Linked DNA regions of Homo sapiens: region 2 is linked to region 1. The links come from fine-mapping of genetic effects on gene expression. Tissue or cell type: whole blood. Region 1 holds a variant in brackets; the other region holds the start of a gene. All regions are shown on one strand. Distances are from middle to middle.

The links. PIP is the estimated chance that this variant, and not a neighbour inherited with it, causes the effect.
Region 2: it holds the start of MCUB, and the variant in region 1 is fine-mapped to the expression of MCUB in whole blood (TOPMed, PIP 0.97).

The regions. Positions count from the first base shown.
Region 1 is chr4:109,660,526-109,668,525 of GRCh38, forward strand. It overlaps MCUB (mitochondrial calcium uniporter dominant negative subunit beta), which reads left to right. Exons shown (of 8, transcript NM_017918.5): 4 at 3,765-3,869. It also overlaps a transcript of CASP6 not described here. Among named protein-coding and RNA genes, the nearest start is that of CASP6, 39 kb to the right of the region's middle. The variant G/A (reference allele first, on the strand shown) is at 3,310.
Region 2 is chr4:109,556,541-109,564,672 of GRCh38, forward strand. It overlaps MCUB (mitochondrial calcium uniporter dominant negative subunit beta), which reads left to right and starts at 3,706. Exons shown (of 8, transcript NM_017918.5): 1 at 3,706-3,896. The coding sequence starts at 3,798. RefSeq lists a silencer at 3,653-3,972 and an enhancer at 4,393-4,592.

The DNA.
Region 1 (8,000 bases):
ACTGTTTTGGCCTGGCGTGGTGGCTCACACCTGTAATCCCAGCACTTTTGGGAGGCCGAGTCAGGCGGATCACCTGAGGTCAGGAGTTCGAGACCAGCCCGACCAACATGGAGAAACCCCGTCTCTACTAAAAACACAAAATTAGCCACCCGTGGTGGTACATACCTGTAATCCCAGCTACTTGGGAGGCTGAGGCAGGAGAATTGCTTGAACCCAGGAGGCAGAGGTTGCAGTGAGCCGAGATCACGCCATTGCACTCCAGTCTGGGCAACAGGAGTGAAACTCCATCCCAAGAAAAGAAAATTAAAAAAAAAAAAAATTTAACTTCATTGAATGAAAAATTAATGGAATAAATTTAATGTAAATTTCAGTTACTTATTTTATAAACTTAGCCTTAAAGGTTTTTCATGAGAAAATCTTAGTGGCACAGGCATTAGCGTGCAATTCTCAGCAAAATTTGAATAATTAGAAAACAAAATGCAGTTTTAATTATTAAAATAAGCCAGTGAATAATTAAAGTACACAAAAAATTTGTTCACCACTGTTATAAAGCAATTACAGTCTAGTATGTTTTTTGGCAGAATTAGTTCTTAGGAAGAATATACATTTTTTAAAAAACCAGAAGTATGTCATCACTTAGACATTTAAAATTTAGAATACAGCTTTCATGTTCTCATAGTCTGAAATGGTCTTAGACCAACTGCTTCTAAATAGAATAAAGAATTATTTACCCTATCCCACTACATAGCAGCTGCAAATATAGATAAATTAATAAATTTGCATTATTTCATTATGATATTAAATACTTAGAATAAAGTTATTTAGGTTCATGATTACTGTTGCAGTTTTGAAAGGGAAATAAACAGACTTTTTCCCTATCCAAGTTCCAAATTAATTAAAAGATAGAGAAGTTGGAAAATGGAGATTAATTGATTCATTCAACAAATATTTATTGAGCACCTAATGTATGTCAGGCACTGTTCTATACGCTAGAGGTAGTGCAGAGAACAAAAGGGATAAAAACTCCTGCCCTTATGGAGCTTATATTTAGGAGGAGAAAAAAACAAGATAAATTATGTATTATGTTAAATAATAAGTGTTACGAAGAAAAATAAAGCAGAGTGTGGAAGATGTGTGTGGGCAGGGGTGGGCTTGATAAGATTACATTTGCACAAAGACCTGGGGGAAATGAGGGAGGGAGTCACGTAGAGGGAAGAGAGCTCTGGGCCGCATGCGGTGGCTCACACCTGTAATCCCAGCACTTTGGGAGGCCGAGGTGGGTGGATCACCTGAGGTCAGGGGTTTGAAACCAGCCTGGCCAACATAGCAAAACCCCTTCTCTACTAATAATACAAAAATTAGCCAGGTGTAGTGTTGCATACCTGTAATCCCAGCTACTCAGGAGGCTGAAGCAGGAGAATCGCTTGAACATGGGAGGCGGAGGTTGCTGTGGTCCGAGATGGCACCACTGCACTCCAGCCTGAGTGATAGAGTGAGACTGCATTGAGGTGGGAGCCTACTACACAGTGACCGCAAAGGAGGGAGCTGGGAGAAAGGAGGAGTTCTGAGAGGTGGGGAAGGGCAGATCAGGAAAGGCTTATTGTAGGTTGTTGTTAGGACTATAGATTTAGCTGGAAGGGACGTTTCTTCCTGCTAAAACCTGGATCAGAGAATAAGGTTTTAGCCCTATGGCACAATGGGCTTCCTAATATTTCATCCTTGAACTAGACAGACATTTCCCCCAGGCACAGGAACACTGGAATGTCCATGGGCGTTTTCCACAGGGGCAGGGCCCTCTTTCTAAGCTTCTAGGGGCAGGCAGACCCAAACCTGGAAGTCAGAAGGGCCTGCACTGAGCAGCACTTGCCTGGTGGTGTGTACTCAATTAGTATTGAAGTGAATGAAATAAGAGAGGTTAAAATGATAGATGTTTATCCTGCTTATTTCTAAAAATAAAGTTAGTAGCTTTGAAACAGAAAGCACAAAGAAAGAGAATAGAAGTCTTAGAGAAAAGGGACTCTTTGGACTGAGTGCAAACACCCTATCGGGGGTTTAAATTGATACCCAAGAATACATGAAAAATTTAACACTGTATCACTAGTGCTTAAAAATGTTTCACGTCAGTCTTTTGCTATTCATACCTTTGTATAAAGGATAATATAGTATTTCAACTGAGAAATCATATTCAGTGTATGTCTTTTTTAGTAAGATTTTAAGGAGCTGGTTTGAAGTCATTTACATGTAAATTTTTAAATGACACTTGGAAAGATAAAGCGATTGGTGTGTTGCTGATTTTTTTTTTCTTCTTTTTAAAAGACTCTGTGGGTGGAATTTGCCTGCATTTAATTTGGGCTTGAAAAGAGTGTTCTAAGCTTGTCACAGTTTTGCCCATTGTGTGGGTTGAATTATTTGGCAATTTTTTGGAAAATGATCTCACTGCAACTGATGAACAGCAACCCAAACAGCCAAATTCTAGGAACAGACACAGGTGCAGACTTGATTTGCAGTCTTCCAGAACAAAAGAACTATAGGGAGGCAGACAAGAGGCAGCAGCCAGTTTCTTCGGGATGTTACTAGTGTTAGTCCTGTCATCACACATATTAATATAGCTAAAATAGCTCGGGTTGAATGTAACCAAATGAATGTCAGGCCGGGATTTGAAAATACACATCCAGCATTTTCCTGGACTTAATTTCATGTAATTATATGTGAACTATTCTGAAGGGAAAATGATAGAAAAAGAAACCTCTACCCAGCACCAATTTTTTGCTTATTGTTCAGTGAATTTGCTTTCTTAACACCTGGATTACATTAAAGTTTGGTTCAAAAATATAACAAAACCTAGGCTCTATGAGAGGCTGTGCAAAGCACATTGTGGTTAAAATTTTTCAAGACTTTTTTTTTCCTGAAATACTCCTAGGATATTTGAAATTACTGTTAGAATCTCTCCTGCCTCTCTCCCCTTCCACAAAATAAACCATACAATGCAAATTTATTTCTTAGGCATCACGTTCATTATTGTCCTCACCTCCTTGACAGTTTGCCTCTTCATTTTTTTCAAGCTTGAAAGGAAGATGAGCCCATGTGGTGATAGCTTGTGGTGCTATTTAGCTACTAAATTTTTAACCACCACAAATCAGTTACCTCTAATAATTAAAAATAAGAGAAAGGCAGGGTTTTTAAATAGTTATACCCTTATGCCTACATGTGCCAGTCAGAAGCTTGGCCATAAGCAGCAGAATGGACTCTGGCTAAGCAGAGGAGTATGTCAACAGGCTCTCATGCTGGAAGTGGCAGAAGACAGGCCCA[G/A]AAGAGGGCAGGAACTAAGAGAAGACAGGAGCTGAGACCAGGTTAACCCAGTAACCACCTGATGAGCTCTGCTGCCTACACTCCACCCTACCCCCAAAACTGTCACCTGCCACTGCTCTGGCCTTGCTGTGAAGGGTTTCCACCTCCCCTGAACCTTTGCATGACTCTCCACAGATGCAGTTTCACCAAGGGCACTACCTGGATTCCAGCACAGCTGACAGGGTGGGAGAGGGAGTGCCTGCCTGTTCCATTTCGTCCAAGGAAATGGGAGGTAGAGCAATAGAGGAGGATTCCCCTCAATGGGAATAGTGTTTGGGTTTGGGGACACCCCCCACAAAAGTAAATTGTCCACTATTATATTGTAAAGACCTGGGTTAGTAATTTTCTATGTGTTGGAAAATGGTTCTTACTGTTCTAAAACAAAGACATGCTCATGCATGATGTTTTTCTTTCAGATGGCAACATGATTTCAGCTTCTACCTTGATGGATATTTTGCTAATGAATGATTTTAAACTTGTCATTAATAAAATAGCATATGATGTGCAGTGTCCAAAGAGAGGTAAGAAACACAGCTATCCAACTATTACTTTTTTTTTTTTTTTTTAGATGAATTCTCACTTGCTCTGTTTCCCAGGCTGGAGTACAGTGACGTCGTCATAGCTCACTGTAATCTCAAACTCCTGGGCTCAAACAATCCTCCCACCTCAGCCTCCAGAGTAGCTGGGACTACCTGCATGCACCACCATGCCTGGCTAATTTTTTAACATTTTTTTAGGGATTGGGTCTCCCTATGTTGTCCAGGCTGGTATCTTCACTTTTACCTTTAGCTGTGAGGTTTCCAGAGGGAGCAAAGTTTATGTTAAGAATCTTAAATTTATCAGATGACCAAGAAGTCTTTGGAAAACCAGTGTTTAAGCTTTTCCAGCAGGGGTATAAGTGATCACCTACAGTTGCCTAGCAGGACTTTTAGTCCCGTATACTCTTTTTAGACTTTCAGGATTTTACTTTAGGATCTTGAATGCTTAACCGACATTATTGGGTTAAGAGAGAGGTAGGCCTGAAAATCAAGAATTCAAGTATACATGATTGTATAGCTCTTAACTCTTGTAAAAAAAAAAAATTGTATTATTTAAAGCAGTTTTAGGTTCAAAGCAAAATCGAGCAGAATGTAGAGAGAGTTCCCATATGCTCTCTGCACCCCACGCCCCTTATTGTCAATATCCCACACCAGACTGGTATATTTATTAAAATTGGTGAACACACTGACACATCATTGTCACCCAAAGTCCATAGTTTACATTAGGGTTTACTCTTGGTGTTGTATATTCTATAGATTGTGACAAATGTAGAACTACATGTATTCATCATTAATGTACATAATGTAAATAATCATCTTGTTTTTATTAATCTTTCTTAAATGTATATGTAGCTTACATTTATTTTAATATTTAACATTAAAAGTGTCTTGGGTCTTTATTTAGATGTTTAATGATGTTTTTATGACCAGAAATATGCTGTAAGAACCTAACTCTTGCTTATATCAATTAGCCTATGGTAAAATTGGTTTCCTTATAGTTGTTTCATTTAAAGTTGCAGTTTTCAAGAACCTGTCTATGACATTAAGAATTATACAGAATAGGGCCAGGCAAACTCTACCAAACTCTACCAAAATTCAAGGATGCTCAAGGCCCTGATACAAAATGTTTGTTATATTTGCATTTAACCTCCATACTCCCTTCATATACTTTAAATCTCTAGATTACTTACAATACCTAAGACAGTGTAAATGCTGTGTAAATGGTTGTTATACTATATTGTTTTTTCATTCATTTTGTTGTTGTTGTATTGTTAATTTTTATTAGATTTTTTTCCCAAATATTTTCAATCCATGGTTGGTTGAGTTCACAGATGCAGAACCCACAAATAAGAAGGGCTGATTGTATAGCCTTTTCAGATTCGCTTCTTTCTTTCTTTTTGGCAGGGGTGGGGGCGCATGGTAGTAGGGCCAGGGACATGAGAGAGCAAGGGAAGAGAAAATAGGATATTTAAGAAAGGGGGTACAACAGGGAAAATACTAAACAGTGAGAGAGAGGAGTGAAAAAAGGGGGAGAGTGGGAGGAAAAAAAGAAAGGCAAGAGGGGAAAGAAGAAGGGGGAAAGGAAGAGAGAGCAAAGAGAAGAAAAGGGAGTGATAAGGGAGGAGACGAGGCAGTAAAGAAGAAAGTGAAGAGGAAGGCCAGCTTGGCTTATTTCACTTAGTAATATGCATTTAAGTTTCTTTCATGTGTTTCAGAGCTTGTTAGCTCATTTCCTTTTAGTGCTGAATAATTGTTCATTATCTGTATGTACCACAGTTTATTCACCTACTGAAGGACATCTGGGATACTTCCAAGTTTTGGCAATTATGAATGGAGTTGCTATAAATACACATGCGCAGGCTTTTGTTTGCACGTAGATTTTCAAATCATTTGGTTAAATACCCAGGAACATGATTGCTGGCACATATGGTGAGAGTGTTTAGTTTTGTGTAAAACTGTCAAGCTGTCTTCCAAAGTGGCTGTACCATTTTGTGTTCCTACCAGCAGTGAATGAGAATTCCTGTTGCCCCATATCCTTGCCAGCAATTGGTGGTATTAGTGATTTGGATGTGATTTTCACCATTGTAGTAGGTGTGTAGTCATTGTTTTAATTTGTAGTTTCTTAATGATGTATGATGATGAGCATCTCTTCATACGCCTATTTGCCATCTATGTCTTCTTTGTTGAGGTGTCTTTTCAGATCTTTGCCCATTTTGTGATCAGGTTGTTCATTTTCTTTTGAGTTCTTTGTATGTTTGGGATAACGGTCTTGTATCAGATACGTCTTTTGCAAATATTTTCTCCCAGGCTATGGCTTGCTTTCTCATTGTCTTTCACAAGTTGAGGAAATTGCCCTCTGTTCCTGGTTTGCTGAGAGTCTTCATTGTGAATTGGTGTTCAATTTTGTCAAATCTTTTTCTGCATCTATTGATATTATCATGTGATTTTTCTTCCTTAGTCTGTTGATATGATGGATTACATGAATTCATATTCAAGTGTTGAGCCTTGCATACCTGGATAAATCCCACTTAGTTGTGGTGTAGCAATCTTTTTAGACATTGTTGTATTTTATTTGCTATTATTTTGCTGAGGATTTTTGTGTCTATATTCACGAGAGATATTGGTCTGTGGTTTTGTTTTCTTACAGTGTTTTTGTCTGGTTTTAGTATTAAGGTAATGCTGGCCTCATAGAATGAGTTAGGAAGTATTCCCTCTGCTTCTGTCTTCTGAAAGAGATTGTAGATAATTAATATAGTTTCTTCCTTTGATGTTTGGTAGAATTCACCAAGAAAATCCATCTGGACCTGGTGCTTTCTGTTTTGGAAATTTATTATTGATTCAGTTGCTTAATAGGTATAGGCTTATGTAGATTGTGTATTTCTTTTTGTGTGAGTTTTGATAGATTGTACCTTTTAGAGAATTAATCTATTTTGTCTAGGTTATTGAATTTGTGGGCATAGAGTTGTTCATAGTATTTCTTTATTTTCCTTTTAATGTCCATGGGATCTGTAGTTAAATCCTCTCATTTCATTTCTACCATGAGTAACTTGTTGTCTCTTTTTTTCTTGATTAACCTGGCTAGAAGTTTATCAATTTAATTGATTTTTTCCAAAGAACTAGCTTTTAACATCATTGATTTTTCTCTGTGGGTTTCCTGTTCTCAATTTCATTGGTTTCTACTCTATGTTTATAATATAGAATAGAATATATATTATGTAGAGTATATTATATACTCTACATAATAAATATTCTACTATATTTATTATCTCTTTTCTTCTGCTTGCTTTTCATTTCATTTGCTCCTCTTTCTCTAGTTTCTTAAAGTATAAGTTCAGATCTTATAGATGTTTATTCTTTCCTGTTATATGTATTCAATCCTATAGATTCCCCTCTGAGCATTGCTTTCACTGCCTTCCATAAATTTTGATAAGTTGTATTTTCATTTATTTTAAAATATTTTAATTTTTTTCTTGTGATTTCTTCTTTGACCCATGTGTTAGAAGTACATTATTTAATATCTAAGTATTTTGGGATTTTCCAGCTATCTTTGGGTTATTGATTTTTAGTTTAATTCCACTGAGATCCGAAAGCATACATTGTATTTTTCTTTTTTTACATTTACTCATGTGAGTTTTATAGCCTTCATTGTGATCTGTCTTGATGAGATGTTCCCTGTGAACTTGAGAATGTGTATTGTGCTGTTGTTGGATAGTCTATAGATGTCACGTTTATCTCAGTTGATTGGTGGTGCTATTGAGTTCAACTGTATACCCCGTGATTTTCTGCTTGGCAGATCTGTCCATTTCTAATAGAGGAATGTTGAAGTCTGTAACTGTAAACATGAATTCATCTATTTCTTCTTGTAGTTCTATTAGTTTTTGTTTTGCCTCATGTAGTTTGATGCTGTGTTAGGAGCATACACATTAAGCATTGTTCTGTCTTCTTGGAGAATTGGCCTTTTATTATTATGTAATGTCTCTCTTTACTCCTGGTAGCTTTCCTTGCTCTAATGTCTGTTTTGTCTGAAATTAATATAGCTATTTCAGCTTTCTTTTTATTAGTGTTAGCATAGTATATCTTTCTTCATCCCTTTGCTTTTCATCTATATATGTC
Region 2 (8,132 bases), 100 kb before region 1:
GAAAAGTATTGCACCTTTGAAATGCAACAAGTGGATTGAGTTTGTAACTTAAAAAAACTTTTTTCCCTGTCAGTCATTGTCTTATATTATTATAGATTTGCAATCAATAGTATATGATGTTTCTAGAATGCAGCTGAAGACCTGGTATGTAGAGGCAATGTGAAGAGCGGTAGCAGAAGACCGACATCTATGGAATGATTCACAGCCTCTCAAGTTATAAGGATGGAGACCTGCTTCATGAAGAAGTTGGGGTGTGGTGGGGATGGATAGAACACTTAACAACATGAGATCAGTCAGGGGAATCTCCTCACTTCTGTGTAGCAGACGAGGAACCCAAGAGCCCCCAAATGAGGCTCTCTGGTTTGTTTTTTTTTTTGAGATGGAGTCTTGCTCTGTCGCCCAGGCTGGAGTGTAGTGGCACAACCTCGGCTCACTGCAACCTCTGCCTCCCCGGGGTCAAGCAATTCTCCTCCCTTAGCCTCCCGAGTAGCCAGGACTACAGGCACGTTCCACCACGCCCGGCTAATTTTTGTATTCTTAGTAGAGACAGGGTTTCACCAATGTTGGCCAGGCTGGTCTTGAACTCCTGATCTTGTGATCCGCCCGTCTTGGCCTCCCAAAGTGCTGGGATTACAGGCATGAGCCACCACGCCTGGCTGGCTCTCTGGTTTAATAAAAATTGTGTAAAGAATCTTATTGAAAGGTGACAATGTGCTGGCGGCCCTCGCTGGCTCTCAGCGCCTCCTTGGCCTCAGAGTCCGCTCTGGCCATGCTTGAGGAGCCCTTCAGCCCGCTGCTGCACTGTGGGAGCCCCTCTCCAGGCTTGCGGAAGCTGGTACCAGCTCCCTCTGCTTGCAGGGAGGTTGAGGGAGAGACGCGGGTGGGAACCGGGGCTGCATGTGGCCTTGCGGGACAGCGCGAGTTCCGGGTGGGCGTGGGCTCCGTGGCCCCGCACTCGGAGGGCGGCCGGCACCCCCGGCCCGGGCAGTGAAGGGCTTAGCACCTGGGCCAGCAGCTGCAGAGGGGGGCGTCAGGTCCCCCAGCACTGCCAGCCGGCCCGCGCCACGCTCAAATTCTCACCAGGCCTCAGCCACCTCCCCATGGGGCAGGGCTCGGATCTGCAGCCCGCCATGTGCAAGTCCCCCCGCGGTGGGCTTCTGCTAGGCCCTAGCCTCCCTGAGGGGCACCGCCCCTGCCTCAGCGGCGTCCAGTCCCATTGACTGCCCAAGGGCTGCTGAGTGCAGGCACGAGGCACGAGCGCAGGACTGGCAAGCAGCTCAGCCCGCAACCCTGGCATGGCATCCACTAGGGGAAGCCAACTGGGCTCCTGAGAGGGGTGGGGACTTGGAGAACTTTTATGTCTAGTTAGAGGATTGTAAATGCACCAATCAGCACTCTGTCTAGCTAAAGGTTTGTAAATGCACCAATCAGTGCTCTGTGTCTAGCTCAGGGTTCGTGGATGCACCAATCAGCACTCTGTATCTAGCTAATCTCCTGGGGACTTGGAGAACCTTTATGTCTAGCTAAAGGATTGTAAACACACCAATCAGCACCCTGTGTCTAGCTCAAGGTTTGTAAATGCACCAATCAGTGCTCCGTGTCTAGCTAATCTAGTGGGGACTTGGGGAACCTTTATATCCAGTTAAAGGATTGTAAATACACCAATCAGCACTCTGTATCTAGCTCAGGGATTGTAGACACATCAATCAGCACCCTGTCAAAACGGACCAATCAGCGCTCTGTAAAATGGACCAATCAGCAGGATGTGGGTGGGGCCAGATGGGGGAATAAAAGCAGGCTGCCAGAGCCAGCAGTGGCAACCTGTCTGGGTCCCGTGCCACGCTCTAGAAGCTTTGTTCTTTTGTTGTTTGCAATAAATCTTGCTGCTGCTCACTCTTTGGGTCTGCACTGCCTTTATGATCTGTAACACTCACCGTGAAGGTTTGCAGCTTCATTTCTGAGGCCAGTGAGACCCGAACCCACTGGGAGGAATGAACAACTCCGGACGCGCCACCTTAAGAGCTGTAACACTCACTGCCAAGGTCTGCAGCTTCACTCCTGAAGCCAGCGAAACCACTGAACCCACCAGGAGGAAGAAACTCCAAACATGTCCGAACATCAGAAAGAACAAACTCCGGACACGCTACCTTTAAGAACTGTAACACTCACCACCAGGGTCCGCGGCTTCATTCTTGAAGTCAGTGAGACCAAGAACCCACCAATTCAGGACACATTATCAAGATTCTTCACAAATGTTAATAGGGATTTTTATCAGTTTTAGTTGTAGTTTCCAATTTCTAAAAATGTTCAGGTAATTTTTTTACACCTTTCAGAACCTAGCTCATGAGTGTTGAATCAATGCTTTTTCATGTCAATTCTTTGTATAGGCATTCTTTTCAGTTGTATTAAACAAGAACCCTTCACAACAAAAAAACAAAAATACACGCTTCTTTCACTTGGAGCACTAGCTAATAGGAGGAAAAGATTCAGGTAAGGTAATTTACCTTCCCATATGAACTTAAAGTTTCATGTGTCACTCTCCATCTGGGGCAACTGTATTTTGAAAGACATGCTAGTTAACACAGGTGAATCAGCCTTTAATAGTGATAAAGTTTTTACTATAGTAGAAACTTGTGATTCTTTCCCTTTTCAATAAGGAAAGGAGATTACCGCCAGGAGTGATTTGCCACTTATTGCAGGTTTGCCAATTTTGATTCATTAACTGAACCCTCTTGCAGATTCAGGAGATAAAAATGCGGAGTGCCCAGTTAAATTTGAATTCAGATAAACACCAAATAATTTAGTATATCCCAGATATTTCATTTTTAAAATAATAAATGTGACCCATGCAATATTTGGGACATACTTCACTATTTGTATCTAAAATTCAAGTTTAACTGGGCATCCTATATTTTATCTAACAACCCTACTGTAATTGGTTTAGGTTGCTCTTTAATGCCTTTGGTTTGCTTTCAAAAATAAGTAGTCTCAAAACAAAGCATCCGATTTCCCAGTAGTTAGAAGAACTCAATACCGGTTCCGAAGCTTCTTCAATTAAAAACGTGCTTCAAAAGAGAAGCCAATTCTGTGGGAGATACTTTCCCAAAAAACTCGGGTTTGGGCCCCTATACCGTGAACTACAAACCTCCGCAGGGGTAGGCCCGGGCTGCCCGCCTCACACCGCACTCGCCAGCGAGCAGGGGCCCGGCACCGCAGCCCGGGGCAGAGGCCTTGGAGGTTGTGGAGGTGGGAGAGGCCTCGGCCGACCCGCTTCAATCCGTCTTCTCCAAGCTCGGTGGGGAAAACAAACTTCCTGAGCGGCCCTGCCCCCTCCAGATGCCGGACGCTGTTTTCGTCTCATCCCCGTCTGGGTTGGATGGCGAAGACGGCGCTCAGAGCACGCAGCACCGGGAATTAACAGCGAGTTTTGAAATCTAGAGCTCGCAAGGTGTGCGTCGCCTGCTGCTGTTCATTCCAGAGGGTCTTCTGCTGGAGAAGGAGGGGGCCCTCGACCTCGGGCTCCCGCTCTCGGGCTCCCGCTCTCTCGCTCTCTTTTTTTTTTTTTTTTTTGGTCGGAGGAAAGAAAACAGCCCTGCGCCCGGATGCGTAGAGAGCCGACAAGTGGAAACAGGGACACACCCTCCCGTGAGCCCGCCCAAGCTGGAGCCGCGGCGCGCTGAGCGAGCAGGCGGGGCGGGAGCGCCCACAGCTCGGAGCCACCAGGCGCTGACGAGGAGCCCGGCTGAGGGAGGATGCGCCGCTGACGCCTGCGGGAGCCGCGCGCCTGGGGCGGGAGGATGCTCCAGAGGGGCCTCTGGCCGTGGCGCACGCGGCTGCTGCCGACCCCTGGCACCTGGCGCCCAGCGCGCCCGTGGCCGCTGCCGCCTCCGCCCCAGGTAAGAGCGGGTGCCGGGCTGTGGGGGTTCGGGGTAGGCTGGTGCAAAGTTTGCGTTGGACAACTTTGGCGGGAGCAAAAGCCGAGCGGCCGAGCAGTCAACTGCGTTTTGCTGGCTGCCGGGCTCCGCGCGCCGGGCGGTCCCGACAGGTGGTGGCCGGGCGGCCGACGTGGGTCACGGAGGCCTGGGCTGAGGTCAAGACTCCGGGCCCGGGGAAGGTGAAGCCAGAGCGCTGCGGCTGGGGGTGCCTCACCCGGGCCGAGATAGGGTGCGGGGACCACCAGACTTCGGCCTGGGAGCAGCAGAATAACCTGGGAGGCAGTTTCTGGGCTGCAGCTCTCGGTCAGGAGCAAGTTTCCAAAGCCGCTGCGCCGCGGGGCCGGTTCCCTCTTGGTGATCAGTGCCCGAGCCCCTAAGGAGCCCGGAAACGATGAACGGGGCAGTGACCGTCCCGGGTGTGGACGGTCGCAGGAGAGTGAAATTTCCATCCTGAAATCTGCGAGCACCTCCCTTTCCCAGAAGGAAGAAAAACTCGCGTTTTGTTCAGACACCCGAGAGACGGGTGAATCATGAGTGTGCTGGTGAGTAACAGTTGGCCTGACACCGTTGTATTGTGGTCTGTGGAGAACCGTGGCTTGGAGGAGTAGAGAGTGGATGTGCACCAAAAAAGACTAGAAGAAGGGGAAAGCGCTGAGTTTAAGGAGGATTGCGATGGAGCCTGACAGGAGCCCGGGAGTGCAAACTCTGACCCAGATGAGGAAAGACAGCCAAAGCCTTCAGGGTGTGTGTGGTTGGGGAGGGAGCTGTTTCTGAGTTTTCGTTTGTTCCTCCCCCACACTGTTAAGATTACTTTCAGATTGTTAAAGGCTTAAAAGCCAAAAAGTAAGCAGTGTGATTCTCTTGTCACTTTCACTTCCTGTTTATTTTGTTCTTTTTTTTCCTTCCCCCCCTTTTCCTCCAGCTGTCTGAGGGCTTCAGTTTCAATTGATGCAGGGAATATTTAAGTGCATTTTTTTTTCCTTTTCATTGAGCTTGTGACCAAAGGATTAAGTGCATTCAGAAAATCAATTCCAGGAATGTTTGAAAGAGAATGAGGAAGGCCATGTTGTTACTAAATGTAAGAACAGGGGCAAACTCCTTAAAATGTAAAATGGTAGACTTATAAAGTCATTGGGGAGATGGGCTTTTTATACTTTTAAAGGTTGTACTTTTACTGTAAGTGTTGCATTGTGTAGTCAAAGAGATACCAAACATTAAAACAACCCAATACGAGGAACCCCTTTCACATGCCATTTTAAACACAGATTATTGTTTTTTGTTGTTGTTTTTGGAGACGGAGTCTTGCTCTGTTACCCAGGCTGGAGTGCAGTTGTGCGATCTCGGCTCACTGCAACTTCCGCCTCCTGGGTTCAAGCGATTCTCCTACCTCAGCCTCCCCAGAAAATAGGATGACCGGCGCGCGCCACCGCACCCGGCTAATTTTTGTATTTTTAGTAGAGACGGGGTTTCACCATGTTGGCCAGACTGGCTGGTCTCGAACTCCTGACGTTGTGATCCGCCCGTCTCAGCCCCGCAAAGTGCTGGGATTACAGGGGTGAGCCACCGCGACCAGCCCCAAGTGTTTTCTATTAAGTCCATTTAACACGTTGAGTAGCATTTTTGTGGATCCCGGGACTGGCTGCCCTTTCTCAAATTATCACCTGCAAATCCTTTTCTCCATATTTCCCATCTGATGCTGTCTAGGGTGGTGCCATTGCATACCTCAGCAGGAATGTGGATACCCTTTTAAAAGAAAATGGTACCATCGGGCTTATTAGGCCTAATAACAGGGAAACAGTAGTTAGGAATCATCGTAAGAAGCGTTATGTTTGAATGTTTCTAATTTGCAAATTTTTGTTTTAAGCCAACTGTCCAGCTATAAAGACAATTTTCAGAACTTGAGAAGTGGAAATGCTGTTCTTTATATACAGCTTTTACATTTTACCATGAGTAAACCGATAAAAATATTCTGGCTCTTGAGGAGTTTTAGCTAGGACTACTAAACCATTTTCTGCTAATCAAATTACCTGGCTATCGGGACATTTTTCATTCTAAGATATCACTCTTTTGTGGCTTTCCCACTTGTTATGAAATATCCTGTGGGTAAAGGCAAGTATTATTTCTATTTATTTTTTTTCCCAGAAACATTCAGACCCCTAGAGCCTATGAAGCAGCTAGAAAAACAAGTAGTTTGTGACCTGACAGCTCATAAAATCTTAGCTTGCAAGGACTTGTCGTAAGCAGTATTTCAAATAAGCGTTCCCAACTATAATTGGTCTTTCTGAAGTCTTTCACACTTCTATGAGTGTGCCTTATAGGAGCATTTAATAACTTTGAAAAATACACAATTCTCATACTTCATATTGTATGTGAGCAATTGTCTGCTAGTGTTTTCTGGGTGAGGGGAAAAAAAAACAGTTTGTTGACATGGATATACAGAATTGTTTTTTAAAGAACACATTTAGTCTGAAGCGTAGTAGAGCAAGAGCATATTGTATTCATCTTTGGGCAAGGCATGGCCTGGTGGCCATAATCACGCTCTGGTGGCAGCATCTCTGCTTGTCAGCACTCTAGCTGAGTGGTTGTCAGGGCAATCCATGGCTCCTGCTGATGTTTCTGTGCACAAAGACTCAGCTTTGAGTAATTGTGGTGCTTGGTGAGTTACATCTGAACAGAAAGCCCTTGCCTAAATGTGCCTTTCTTAATTTGGATTTTGTGCTACTTAGACTGAGAAACTCCCTGATACGATTTCATGTCCCCAGTACAGCATTTGAGTCCATACATAAGCTATGTTTAAAAAATTTTTACATCAAGCACTCTGCAGAGCAGCTTAAGTATCGAGTATGCTTTTTTTAACTTCTAGAAACAAAGCATATGGATGTTTAAATTCCACCACAAGATGTCAACTTAGAAATTGTTTTCATCTTTTTAATTTAATGAACATATCGTTCTTGTTTGACATGTTCCTACTATTCTATCTCTTGTATTTGCAGTTGGTACATTGTATTCTATTCTATAAAACTAACTTCAGAGCCCTCTCCTGAGGAGAGCAATTGGTTAAGTGTTGGTGATTGTATTTACGCTATGGAAAAGACATTGATGCTTTGATCTCAAAGTAATGCTAGACCAGCTTGTCAATTAAATATTAAACATTACCACTTTTGCAGCACTTAAGTATTAGTGTGTTTTTTTTAGATTTTGCTTGTTATTGTGATTAAATGGTATTAGTGCTGTTTTACAGCAAATTCTAAGCTAGGAAATCATTTGTGTCTTGGCAGAAAGATATTTGTTGAATGAGGTACCTGTGAAACTAAGGTAGAAAACCTCGAGCTAAAACTCCTGACCTCGTGATCCTCCTGCCTCAGCCTCCCAAAGTGCTGGGATTACAGGCGTGAGCCACCGCGCCCAGCCCACAGCACTTCTTAAAAAAATAAAAGTAAAGGAAAAAGCCAGACCTAATAATCTACTCAATCTAGTAAATATCATAAGATCCTCAGGAAGAACTCATATTTGTGGGGTGACCCTTGCCAGTCTTCAAGATTTTCCTCTCTAAAGTTTACCACAGCAAAGCTTTGTGAACCTGTCAGTTTCTTGATATGAGATTCAATGTTTTATGTCATTTCTTATTTATTTCTGCTTATAGGCTATATGCATTTCTTTCTTTTCTTTTTTTTTTGAGACGGAGTCTTGCTCTGTCGCCAAGCTGGAGTGCAGTGGCGCAATCTCAGTTCACTGCAACCTCCGCCTCCCGGGTTCAAACGATTCCCCTGCCTCAGCCTCCAAGTAGCTGGGATTACAGGCATGTGCCACCATGGGGGCCAGCTAATTTTTTGTATTTTAGTAGAGACCGGGTTTGGTTTCACCATGTTGGCCAAGATGGTCTCGATCTCCTGACCTCGTGATCTGCCCACCTTGGCCTCCCAAAGTGCTGGGATTACAAGCATGAGACACTGCGCCCGGCTGGCTATATGCATTTCAAGTCTAGCCCCATATCTTGCCTCTCTTTCACTGTTCCCTATTTCTTGCCCTCAAATCTATTCCAAAAAAATTATCTTCAATAGACCTTGTTTATCATGCAGATTTCATAGATGATTTCTCATCAATATTGTGAATCCTGGACTGAAATCTGTTCCCTAAAGAGCTGCCAAAATGCAAACCTGATCTACAATACTTGTAGTGAACCTGTAATTAAGGTAA